2 linked regions of the Homo sapiens genome follow. The protein of the gene in region 1 purifies or fractionates together with the protein of each later gene. This does not show direct contact. Each region holds a gene or a part of one and is shown on either strand. Other genes may lie near its edges.

What was found.
Region 2: the proteins of KCTD3 (region 1) and PLEKHA7 purify together in Homo sapiens (affinity purification with mass spectrometry; 2 studies listed by BioGRID and IntAct, with this or other methods). This does not show direct contact.

Annotation. Positions count from the first base shown.
Region 1 is NC_000001.11:215,562,804-215,570,869, forward strand, and holds the start of KCTD3 (BTB/POZ domain-containing protein KCTD3), read left to right. Parts: upstream 1-4,500; 5' UTR 4,501-4,882; coding exon 4,883-4,965; intron 4,966-8,066. UniProt on the Homo sapiens protein: Accessory subunit of potassium/sodium hyperpolarization-activated cyclic nucleotide-gated channel 3 (HCN3) up-regulating its cell-surface expression and current density without affecting its voltage dependence and kinetics.
Region 2 is NC_000011.10:16,776,612-16,781,152, reverse strand, and holds the end of PLEKHA7 (pleckstrin homology domain-containing family A member 7), read left to right. Parts: intron 1-100; coding exon of another isoform or gene 101-201; exon of another isoform or gene 202-211; intron 212-2,132; coding exon 2,133-2,155; 3' UTR 2,156-3,856; downstream 3,857-4,541. UniProt on the Homo sapiens protein: Required for zonula adherens biogenesis and maintenance. Acts via its interaction with CAMSAP3, which anchors microtubules at their minus-ends to zonula adherens, leading to the recruitment of KIFC3 kinesin to the junctional site.

The DNA of each region.
Region 1 (8,066 bases):
GTTTCTTAGCTCTTCTTTATAGCAAAACCCCACCAATTATGCTTTTTCTCCCACTTCTGCACTAGAACTGCCCTTACTTCCACCACACTATTTTTCTTCATGTCACTAAATCCAAAGTCAATTCTTAGTTCTTATCTTACTTGTCCTGTGATCTCATAGGACCCCATGCTCCCTTGGTTTTCCTCCCATCTGGCTGAAACTCCTTTCTAGTTTCCTTCACTGGAACTCCTCCCCAGTCTCTTAATATTGGATAGTCAAGGGCTCCATTCTGATTTCTATTTTTGTCTCATTCTACACTCACCTCCTTATGATTTTAGGCAGTCTCATGGCTCTAACAGCCATCTATATACTACTCATTCCCAAAGTTTTATTTCAGTAAAAATAAGAGAATTTTTAGCTTAGTTCTCTTTCTGAAACTTCTAGGTCCTTTATACAACAGCTTACTCAACATCTTACTTGGATATCTAATACAACGCTACTTTAAGTGTGGTTACTACTTTTAGTGTACTACTTTTAGTATAACCACACTTCAAGTAAATGCTACTTTAAGTGTGCTACTTAAGTGATAATAAACACTACTTTAAGTGTGGCCACTTAAGTGTGGTTCATGAATTGATGCCCATCCACAAACTGTGAATAGTCTGCAATTAAATAAGCACAAAAATGAGACTAAGAGGTTGGAAACTTTTTTTTTTTTTTCTGAGATGGACTCTTGCCTTGTCACCCAGGCTGGAGTGCAGTGCTGCAATCCCAGCTCACTGCAACCTCCATCTCCCAGGCTCAAGTGATTCTCCTGCCTCAGCCTCCCGAGTACTTGGGATTACAGGAGCGTGCCATCACGCCTGGCTAATTTTTGTGTTTTTAGTAGAGACAAGGTTTCACCATGTGGCTAGGCTGGTCTCGAACTCCTGACCTCAGGTGATCCGCACACTTTGGCATCCCAAGTGCTGGGATTATAGGTGTGAGCCACAGTGCCCGCCCGAGCTATATATATATAAAGGGGAGTTTACCCATCACAGAACTAATGGAATATACATATATATATTCCATATATATAATATATATTTATAAATACATATATTATAAAACATATATATATTCCATTAGTTCTGTCCCTCTAGAGAGTCCTGACTAAATCACCCCATAAATTGGAAATTGAACTAGTTCTTACCTGAGATAGTTTGACAAGGACTGGTCGAGTAGACATCACAAATTCAATATAGTCACTAAAGAAGGTAATATTATTTAAATAATGTTTTATTTACTTTGTATTGCCTAAATATTAAAATAACATAAACTTTAAAAAGCTGTCATGGGGACAACCTTGAATGTATCTACTCTATTTATTTACACATTCATACATACATACAGGTAGTACATGAAAGAAAACTCACTGTAAACAGTTAAACAATATGAAAGACCATAGGGGTAAAAGGTTTTGTCCATTCACCACTGCTACCTTCTCCTCACTGATTCTAATGATCTGTCTAGAGGTTATGTTTCTTCGTAGTTTAATATGTATTTTTATATAGAAATATAAGTGGATATACACATGATTTTAGTTTTTCCATTATTTAAATGAATGAGATTGTACTCATAATGTATTATTCTGTAATCTGATTATTTTCCCCACTAAATCATATACTTGGAGATCATTTCTGGTCAGTTCACATGAATTTGCCCCCAAAATAGTAATAGCTTCCAACATAATTTTAAAAATTATTCCCTTGTTGTTGAATATTCCATGTTTTTGCTATTATAACACTACTACCATGAATATGCACTTACTTCTTTGCATGTACCTTTGCCAATTGAGCAAAATGTGTATAGGATATATTTTTAGAAGAAAAGTGCTGGGTCTAGGGTATTTACATTTAAAATGCTGATATTCTTGAGGTGCCCTCCAGAAACTCTGTACCCATTCATAATTTAATCAGCAATGCATGAGTATGATCATTTCACACTCTCACTGTCCTTGAATTTTATCAAACCTCTCTTAATTTTTGCTAATCTCATGAGTAAAAATACATTTTTTGTTTTATTCATTTATTTATGTATTTATGTATTTATTTTGAGATGGAGTCTCGTTCTGTCGTCCCAGCTGGAGTGCAGTGGTGCGATCTCAGCTCACTGCAACCTCTGCCTCCCAGATTCAAGCGATTCTCCTGCCTCAGCCTCCCCAGTAGCTGGGACTACAGGCGCGCACCACCACGCCTGGCTAATTTTTGTATTTTTAGCAGAGACGGGGTTTCACCATATTGGCCAGGCTGGTCGCGAACCCCTGACCTCGTGATCCACCCACTTCGGCCTCCCGAAGTGCTGAGATTACAGGTGTGAGCCACTACACCCAGCTTTCTGTTGTTTTAATAAGCATTTTAGTGTTTTTATCAATTGGCTGTTGATATTCTTTCCATATTTTTCATTACTTGTTTTCTCAATTTATTTGTAGAATAATATATACATATATGATCAGATATTATATATTTTCAATCATTTGATATATGTTGCAAATATCTTTTCTCATTCTGCTATTTGTTTTTGTTAATGGTGTTCCAATTTATTCTTAAAAATTAAGTCACACCCTAACTTTAAGTTTTATGAGCAAGAAATGCCTCAGATATCTCTATATTGTTCTGGACATATCAAGAAGTCATGACCATTTGTCTTATAAAATACTGAGAACTTTTCCTTCTCTTGAAGAGATGTTCTCCTAATTTTTAAGTACAGTATAATAAAATGAACACGGTTTCATTTATTTCAGGAAAAATAAGAAGCCTTTCACAAATATATATATTTTTAAATTTATAAGGCCTTATTCTAACTCCAACTTGCCTCTTGGATTCAAAGGCTGTTAGCAACTATTCTTTCATATTCTTCCAAGGTTTGGACCTAAGGAAAATTAAATGGCCCTTTTACCACTTAAATCTTCGCTGCAAATTTTAAAGCAAAGTTTCAGATCCTGATAGAACCAGATATTATGTGTTAGGGCAAAGGCAGTTAACATTGTTTAAAGCAAGCTTGTCCAACCTGCAGCCCCATGGGTCGCATGCAGCCCAGGAAAGCTTTGAATGTGGCCCAACACAAATTCATAAACTTTCTTTCTTTCTTTCTTTCTTTTTTTCAGCTCATCAGTTATCGTTAGTGTTAGTGTATTTTATGTGTGGCCAAAGACAATTCATCTTCCAATGTGGCCCAGGAAAGCCAAAAGATTGGACACCCTGGTTTAGATTCCTAGTTGCTGCTGCTTTAATCTGAACTGTTACTCATCTTCCCTGTCTAAAGTGAAGATAATGAGGTACAATGCAGTGGTAAGGATGGTGAACAGTGGCCTTGAATTCAAGCTGCTTGCCTTGAAATTCCTGCCATCCCACTTGCTACCTATGTAATTTTGAGCAAGTTTTTTTGATCATTTTCATTCCCAAATTTCCTTTTTTAAAAATAATTATAACATTAGTTGTGACGAAGAAAGATGACAAAATATCTAAACCACCGGGTATATGATAAACACAAATTAGCTATTATTAAGCTTATCATCAACTGGGAGAAATAATACTTATCTTACATCCATATGTACTATTAACATCTTTCAAGTCGAATCTAGATAGAGCATATCACAACATTAGTATGCTTGCCAGAGGCTATTTTTTATTTTTTTGGTAAAAATTATGACAATGACAATAAAAACTTAACATCAGATACATTATCAGTTTGAATTATTATGATACAACTATGACAAAACAATTCATGTTAAGAATTTAGTACCACAAACTAATGACCTCTGAAACATAACGCACTATCTTTGTTAGTCTTTGTTAGCAGGGCATCAAGTATTATAGTATTCCGATTTAAAAAATATTTTAATAGCCACTAAGGTTTTGGGTTTGAATAGATACCGTTTAAAGCAAAAACAAATAAATAAACAAGCGCATAAAATTGTGTGTTTTCTGCGTGTGTCTAACATTAGTTGAGTGCTTACTATATTCCAGAAATAGGTTGCTGGGCATTACACAGTCTAGGGGTTTTTGTCCTTTGGTTTCCTTCCTGCTTAACAAACAAAAGCAAAAAACAAAACAAAAAAACTGCTTGGGAGATTGGGGATTAAATTGAAGAGGGTAAAGTAAGCAGTTTTCTGGGGTAAACGCTGTAAGGTTTTAAAATCTCCAAATGTTCCCTGCATTTGCACTGTCTACATTTAGGCATCAACTTTTACTACCTCTAGGATTAGTTTTTCCTTTCCCAATCCATGTTGACAAAGTGGGTCATAAAGATCCGTAGATCGTTTGCCCAGATCTGCCCTCAATCTGCGAATCAGCTTCCTCGTTTTAGAAAATCTGAAATGTAAAAGGGAAAGGGGCTGGGATCGCGTGGGGAGGAGGAACGAAATGGAATCCCGCGTGGGCAGGCGGCTGGCCAGGAGCACATTCCCCTAGCCTCCCTACGCGCCAGCCCCGCGGCGTTGGGAAGCTCCTCCCTGACCTTTCCTTCCTCCTCCTCCTCCTCATTCTAGGCGGCAGTGGCGGGCGAAGCGTGAGCGCTGCGGTATTTTGTCCCGAACGGTGACCCCTCCTCCCAGGCAGGCTGCGGCGGCGTCGGTGGCAGCGGAGCACGGAGAAGAGGCCCGGGCGGCCCGGCGGCCTGGAGGCCGCGAAAGGTGGAGGCCGGGCCGCCCTTGTGCACCGCAGGATTGACCCGGGAAGGGGCAGAAGCTAGCGAGCCCCGCCCGGCCGCCGGGAAGGTGGGGGAAGCCCCGTGCACCCCCCGCCCTCCGGCCGCCGCCGCCCCGCTGGCCCTGCAGCCGTCGCCGCTGCCTCGGGCTACAGCCCCGGGCTCGGCGGTCCCGGCTGGGGAAGGAGGGCGGCGAGCGCGTCCGGAGCCGCCGGAGATGGCGGGAGGGCACTGCGGCAGCTTCCCCGCGGCGGCGGCCGGCAGCGGCGAGATCGTCCAACTGAACGTAGGGGGGACCAGGTGAGTCGGCGGGTAGCGGGCTTGCAGCGGGGATGCCTTGGCGGCCTCCTCCTTTGGTGTCGACGGGGACCGAGAGTCGCAGGAACGAGGGCGAGCGTGGGAGGCCAAGCCTGGAGGGGAACGTGGGGGCCTCCAGGCGGCAAGAACGTCGGGCGGATTTTGGAGCTGGTGAAGCATCTGCTCTGGGAAGGGAGAGGCAGAAGGGACGCTTGGAATTACCGAGGACCAGGCCCATGTGGCAGAGTAGCTGCTGTCCTAGAATGCCAACCTTTGCCCCTCCCAACAGGCAAGGAGAACCATTACACAGCCTTCCTTACCTCATCTCAGATTAGAGTGTATTTGAGGACTTTATTTAGTAGAAACCTGGCTTTGTGGTTTGGATGTTGGAGATGAACTTGCTTTCCTTTCTCTTTGGTCAACGAGGTGTCGGTTTTCTTAGGGAAGAGTGCGGTGTTCTTTTCCGCGCCTAATTAGGGGATTTGTAATTTGAAAGATTTCTGTGATGGGAGTGCAGTAGGTTTGCAGTACCTAGTTATTTATTTTCAGAATTTCTTGGTGCATGGGCTTGAAGGATCTGTTCAACTTCTAGGACAGTGTGTCCAGAAACTGCAGTTTGAACATTTGCTTTTAGGAAGCTCTGGATATTGGCACGGTGTGACGCCCTTGGAGTAAACAGACTGAATGCTCTTCTCTGTCTGTTCTCTTTCTGGCCTTCCGCCCCCCCCCCCCCCCGCCCCTTCTGTGCCTGTTATTAAGTTTGTTGGGGGAAAAAATCGTAGTTTTTGTGGATTTCCTATAACTTATGAGTCACTCCTCTCAGAAAAGGGAGTTTGCCAGCTGTTTGAAAGAAGGATTAGTTGAGTTTTAGGCTTGGTAAGGAGATAAACAAGGAAATGCTCTGGAATACAGTTAATTTTTCTGTGCTTGAGAATATGATTTTCAACCAGCATTTTAAAAGTATTTTAATGTCTTAGAACCATAGTGATAAAAAATGTCTACTGTAGTGCTTTAATCCTAAACATTTGATAGCTTTCTAGAATTTAACACAGAAAACCATGGTACTTCGTTCTTAGGGTTTTTCCTCTTCCCCCAAATCAAAACTTAGATAATTTACAACGTTATTGCAGTTGTATAGAAACCAGTCTTATGGAGATTTATGTCTCCTAATGTAAGAAATGGAGTTTTTCCTAAAATCACGTTAAAATATTGGAAGTTTGGTAACTTGTGGAATACCCCTAAAGAGGAGGCCTGCAATGTGTGTTGATTATACTGAAGAGTAGCAGTATAATCATTTACAATCCCTACACTGGTTTCTACTTGCTATTGATAGTTAATGTATTTCTTTTCTTTAATTTTCTTTTTTTTTTTTTTTGAGACGGAGTCTTGCTCTGTCGCCTGGCTGGAGTGCAGTGGCGCGATCTCGGCTCACTGCAGCCTCTGCCTCCCAGTTTCAAGCGATTCTCCTGCCTCAGCATCCCGAGTAGCTGGGTCACAGGCGCGCGCCACCACGCCCGGGTAATTTTTGCATTTTTAGTAGAGACGAGGTTTAACTACGTTGACCAGGATGGTCTTGATCTCCTGACCTCGTGATGCTCCCGCCTCGGCTTCCCAAAGTGCTGGAATTACAGGCGTGAGCCACCGCGCCTGGCCGATAGTTAATATATTTCTATTCAGACATTCACAAGGACATACAGTATTATTGTAAAAATTAAGCAGTATTGTTATTTACTATGTGGATGGCTTAATACTGAGTGAACTCTTATTAGAGACTGCAGAATTCATTTAAAAGTTTTAACTCATAAGGCAGTTATCTTGGCACTGTAACTTTTTTTTTTTTTTTTTTTTGAGACAGAGTCTCGCTCTGTCATCCAGGCTGGAGTGCAGTGGTGCGATCTCGGCTCACTGCAAGCTCCGCCTCCCAGGTTCGCGCCATTCTCCTGTCTCAGCCTGGCACTGTGACATTTTATCTTGTGTTTACATTATTTATGAAACTTGAGCTTATCAGGTTCTAATTTTTTCTAAGTGATATTAGCAAAGATACAAAATAGTACATATATTACTGGTTTGAACAGTTTACAAGACATGAAATTGTTAGTGGGAATGGAAACATTAAAAAACTTCAGAAAATTGTTAAGATAAAATGGCTTATAAAATAAGTAGTAATGGTATGGCCCGTAGAAAACAACATCCGACTCCATATTCTAAGAATATTTTCTAGATTTGCTTTGAATCCTACACTCGTGCAGCATTTTAGAGCTAGATGAGATCTAGAAGTCACCTGTATCTTGTACAAAACACAGTGTAACATAGTCACTTAAGCCACTGTAAGAGAAAAATCCTGATATGATTGCCACTGAAGTTCAGGAACTGCTGTGGCATAGAATTGAAGTTCTGAAGTGATAGAGTAAAACTCAAAAGGAGAGTTTGTTGGGAGCAGAGAAGCATATGCTATCGGTAAGGTCTTTTTTTTTTTTTCCCTCAGGAGAATAGACATGAAAATGGATATACTCAAAGGAATTATAGAAATGACTAATTTTTATGGTTTAATACTTTGTGGGTGATTCAGAAAGTAGAGTAGATGAAGTTTCATTTAGAATTGTTAGTATTCGTTATTTACAAAAAGTAATGAAGTGAATTCACTATGACTGAATTTATGATTAATTCTGTTATGGGCAAGTGTGATTTTGGGCCTCATGCAAGAGGGCTGGGACTAGCCATTGAGGACTCCTGGACAAAGAGCTTTTGAGTCAGGTATATGTTTCCAATTCCCAGGCTTTATCTCTAACTAGCCTAGCAACCTTGGACAAATATTTTGATACTTAGTCTATTAAAATGTAAAGTGACAGACAGTAGTACCAATCTTATCAGATTGTTATAGGAATTTGAAGTAATAAATGTGAAATGCAAGGGTTAGTGGCATTATCAGTACTTACAGTGCAGAATAAATAACTAGTTAGATTGCTACCAAGTTAATTTAGTAGGAGGCAAGTTGCATGAAGTATAACTGTGGGTATGCAAATTTCTTTAGTCCTTTGCTGAAACCAGATTGTACATGACTCTGTTCTTGGGACACTATGGGTATGGGATAAAAAACAAATCAA
Region 2 (4,541 bases), on another chromosome or scaffold:
CAGGGCCCATGCCACCCCAGCCTGCCAAATGGGGCATCTGGTGCTGCAGGAGCTGATGAGGAGTCTAACACACCGCTTAATTCCTGTGTGCCCCATCTAGCACAGCAGCTGGCCCTCCTCCCGCCTAAAGGCCCCCTGTCTTCCAGGACGGTGCCACCTTACCCCCCTTTTACCAACGGACTCCACTACACCTTTGTCTAACACCTTCCAAGTAAGAGCCCCTGTCTGGTGTGCTTCTGCCTGCTTCCTGCACCTCCCTAGCGCTGAGCCCCTCACCTCCCTGCTGTGCTGAGGTGATTGCAGTGCCACCTGCTGATGCCTCCTTCCACTGGCAAAGCGGCCGCTGGCGGGACTGTTCTGACTGGTAGGCAGGTGGGAAAGTGATGCTTTTTAGGAACTCAATCCTCAGTGGCTCTAATACGATAGGGACTGAGCAATCCACCCTGCTGCCTCCATGAAATCTCTAGAACCGGAACTGTGCCCCCATCCCCTGCTCTCCTCAGTAGGGCACCCTGATGCCCGAGAACCAGTGCAGACCACACTGCCAGCCTTGGGGGGCTGGAAAGGAAGAGTTAGATCTTGGCCTTTCAGGGCTTTGGCCAAAGAAATTGAAGAACTGTAAGATTGGGAAAAGTCCAGTTCTACAGATGAGGAAACTGAGGCCCAGTGAGGGGCTGGGGCTCACTCCAGGTCACAAAGAATTGGTGTCAGCGCAGAGACTGGGACTGCCCTTTTGGTCACTGGGCACTTTAAGAGGGAGAGAAAGGGAAGCCCAGGGCAATGTGAAATTGGCCCTCAGCCAGGCAGAAAGCTCTGGCACCAACCCTACCAAGTTCTCCCCATGTGGGCATCTAGTGATGAGAGGCAGTGTGGGATGAGGAGGGAGCCCTGAAACAGGAGGCTGGCATCTGGTCCAGTCTCAAGTGAGTTCTTGGCCTGGGCCTGTTGCTTTTGAGCCCAGCGGTTCACCTGGACAGGGGAAGGTCAGACTACCAGTCTGGGCAGTCCTTACCCTGACATCCCATCCCACTATCATTTTGCAGGGCTTTCCCCTCTCCTTCCTTTACGTATACTTGTGGTTAACATTGTTGAGTGCCTGCTGTGTGCCAGGCATTGTGCTAAGTATCTCTTTCGATCCACACAACAACCCTATGAAGATATTCCCCCCCCCCTCCCCGTTTTAGAGATGAAAAAACAAAAGCTCAGAGGCCTTGAGGGATATGCGCAAGGAATCGCAGCTTGTTAAGTGCTGGGGTTTGAACCCCTTTGATGTGAGTTCAGAGCCTTTGTTCCCCATCACCACTCATGGGTTCATCTGGGCCGCCCCGAGCAGCTCTAGGTGTTTGGAGAAAGAAGTGAAAGGAGGGAGAGAGTATTTGTGCTGCAGGGAGCGAAGCATGATTTTTTGGCAGGTGTCTATCCTGGGTGCTCCCCGTGCCTCACAGCAGAGTCAGCAGGTCCCCGCCAGCCTGAGCATGAGAGGAAGAGGTCAGCCTCCTTGGGCCAGGCTCTGAGGAGGTGTGGAGTAGAGGCCCCGTGGTTGAGGAGCCATAGGGAAGTGCTCTAGCCACGCCCATTGTGAAGGCCACATTTGAGGGTGTGGCTTTCTCCTAGAGATCTGAGCACAGTAACAGCGCTCAGTCACAGAGAGGCAGGAGAGAGGTTCTGTTCCTCCTGGGTTTTGGTGCCCCCATGGCTGTAAGATTGGCCTATTATACTCTTTGGAGTACTGCATTTCTTCTTACTCTCAAAGCATCCTTGTTAAGAAGTGGGTATGACCACCATGTTTTTTAGGTTAGAAAAACAAGGCCCACAGAGGCCAAGAGCGCTACCCACATTGAAAGAATGAAGGGCAGGGCCAGACTGCACCTTTATTAGAGTCTTTGCCCTGTCGGGATGGGGACCCAATTTAGGGGCCAGCATGTGTCTAGCAGTGGAATAGGGGTGCAGGGAGGGTGGGGCAAGAGCCCCATGTGTCCTGGAAGCTGAGGGTCCCCCAGCAGCGGCCGCATTGCCAGAGCCCCCTGCTCTGCTGCTCTGCCTGTCCGCCTATCTGCCATTCCATCATGTGTGTGCAGACGTGCCTGCTCCCTGGATGCCAGCCTCTCACTGTCTCCTGTGCTTTTTGCCAGCCCAGGCAGTGACTGACCCGTGACCCAGCATGCAAAGAAGCCTGGAGCCAGGGGCCCAGTGGAACCAGCTTCCTCCAAGGAGATGACCTTTCTGCCCCCAAGGAAACCCCTTCCAGCTGAGCAGGGAATCCGGCCGGAGGAAGGAGCAGCTTACCGACTGCGGGTGTTCACCACAGGCCAGGCCCTAATATGCACCCACTAGTTTAGCTCAGACTCCTCTCTACATATGAATGGCAAAGGCACTTTTGATATACACTGTAAAATACACTGTATTTTAGAATCGGAATCTATTTTCTAATGTTCCCCTCAAGGGCTGAGTGGCAGGAAGGTTGAGGATGCAGGACTTTGCAGCTGCACGTACAGATTCAGGTACTTCTGGGTGACAGGTGTTGTGGGGGCAGGAAGGGCGGGGCAAGCCGAGGCTAGTCCAACTTCCAATGACCTCAGGAGAAAGTGAGATTTAAAGAGGTGTTCCCAGTAGACTCCAGCAAGAGGCTGGTTGGCGTGCTGTCTGGGAGAAGAGGGGCCCTTGGCTGCAGAGATCAGCTGTCCCTGACCTGATGACCAGCTCTGTGTGAAACTCCACGAGGATCACACGTGGAGCCCAAGTCTGTGCCTTGCCCCTTGGGTTTGGCTTAGGGGCAACAGTGTGTTCAAGAGGACTGGGGCCCACAACCTGCCCCCAGGCTTCCTCCAGCAAAAGGCTCTTGTCAGAAAGAAAAAAGCAGTTTGCTATCTTTTTTTTTTTTTGAGATGGAGTTTCACTCTTGTTGCCCAGGCTGGAGTGCAATGGCACGATCTCGGTTCACTGCAACCTCTGCCTCCTGGGTTCAAGTGATTCTCCTGCCTCAGCCTCCCAAGTAGCTAGGATTACAGGCATGTGCCACCACGCCCGGCTAATTTTGTATTTTTAGTAGAGACGGGGGTTTCTTCATGTTGGTGAGGTTGGTCTCGAACTCCTGACCTCAGGTGATTCATCCGCTTCAGCATCCCAAAGTGTTGGGATTACAGCCGTGAGCCACCACGCCCAGCCTGCTTTCATTTTTAACAGTACACATTGAAATACAGAAAAGGTGAGAGGAAGCAACTTTCATTGTATCGTAGCAATAAACTCCACACTGGGTGACATCTACCTAGAAATCCCTTCCCTCTAACCAGGCCATGATGGGAACCTTTGCTGCCTGCCCTTGGAGAACCCCGGATTGGCTTCCCTGGGACTCAGGTCTGGTGGCAGGAGGGCAGCAGTGTGCCCCCACCATCCCTCATGGCCTGCCGCCAGCAGGGCCATAATGGCAGGACTTTGATTTGACTTCCAGCCCCACATGAGGAGGGGGGCTACCAAGCCAGGTGCAGTGTTTGTGGCCCTTTATTTAAGTTGTTTTCTTATATTATTCTGCATATAAACAATGACGTTTAAATGGAAAAAACAACAACAACGAAAACCTCCATTGGGTGGAGCCACACTTTAAATGAAAATTTCTCTTTGACTATGCTCAGAAAAAAAAATAGAATTTTGAATATATCTAGCAGTTGTTGTCTATTTTTAACTAACTCCATATGCTGCCAGTATCGACTTCATGACATTTGCCAAAATAAAATTTTATTTTTGCCTTTATAAGATTTTCTTGGAAAAAATGAAATGAATATTTTGCAAGAAAAAGTTAATTTAAAAATGTAATGGTTTGCAAAAAAAATGTGATGTACAGATTAAAATATTAACCTGATACGTTTCCTGTTTCTTGCTGGCTATAGTCTCTGGTGAGTGGCCTGTGTACGTTTGTTTCCATTTCTTTGGAAAATCCCCACTGTCAGCTCTCGGCCCTGCTTCTATTTACCTATGAAAAGTTTCTTCTGGTGACGATTCCTTGACATTTGATTGACTGTAGAGGCCTGGATTGAGGAGGCCTGTGCTTCTGGGCCCCTGGCTAGGCTTCCACAGTTGCTCAAGGCAACCCCCTACCCCATCCCAGTCAAAGAGCCACCAGGCTGTGGACTCCCTTGTGGGGCTGGTTTGTCAGACAGACTGCAGTCCAATTCAAGACAGCGCAGGGAACGCTGTGGGCCCCCTTCCAACCCACATGCTGCCGGCTCGCTCCTGGGAGGCAGCTTAGTGACGGACCATTGCAAACTGGATTTGTATTTAATTCATTTTGACTTGTGATGTATGCTCACAACAGAAGGCAAGAAGCCAGTTCCATTGAGGGGTGTGTATATTTCTGAGCTGTGGTTACGGCAGTTTTTCTCTACTGCCAAGAAGAGCATCCGAGGTTCATGGTGACTTTCCAACTATTTAAACTGGGGAAAGTAGATTCCAAGGCATTCCGAACAGGGGGTACTGCTGCTTTTTTAGCTACTGAACTCTTTAATTTTAAAATAAAATGTACTCTTTGGTTTTAAACATTACTTGGA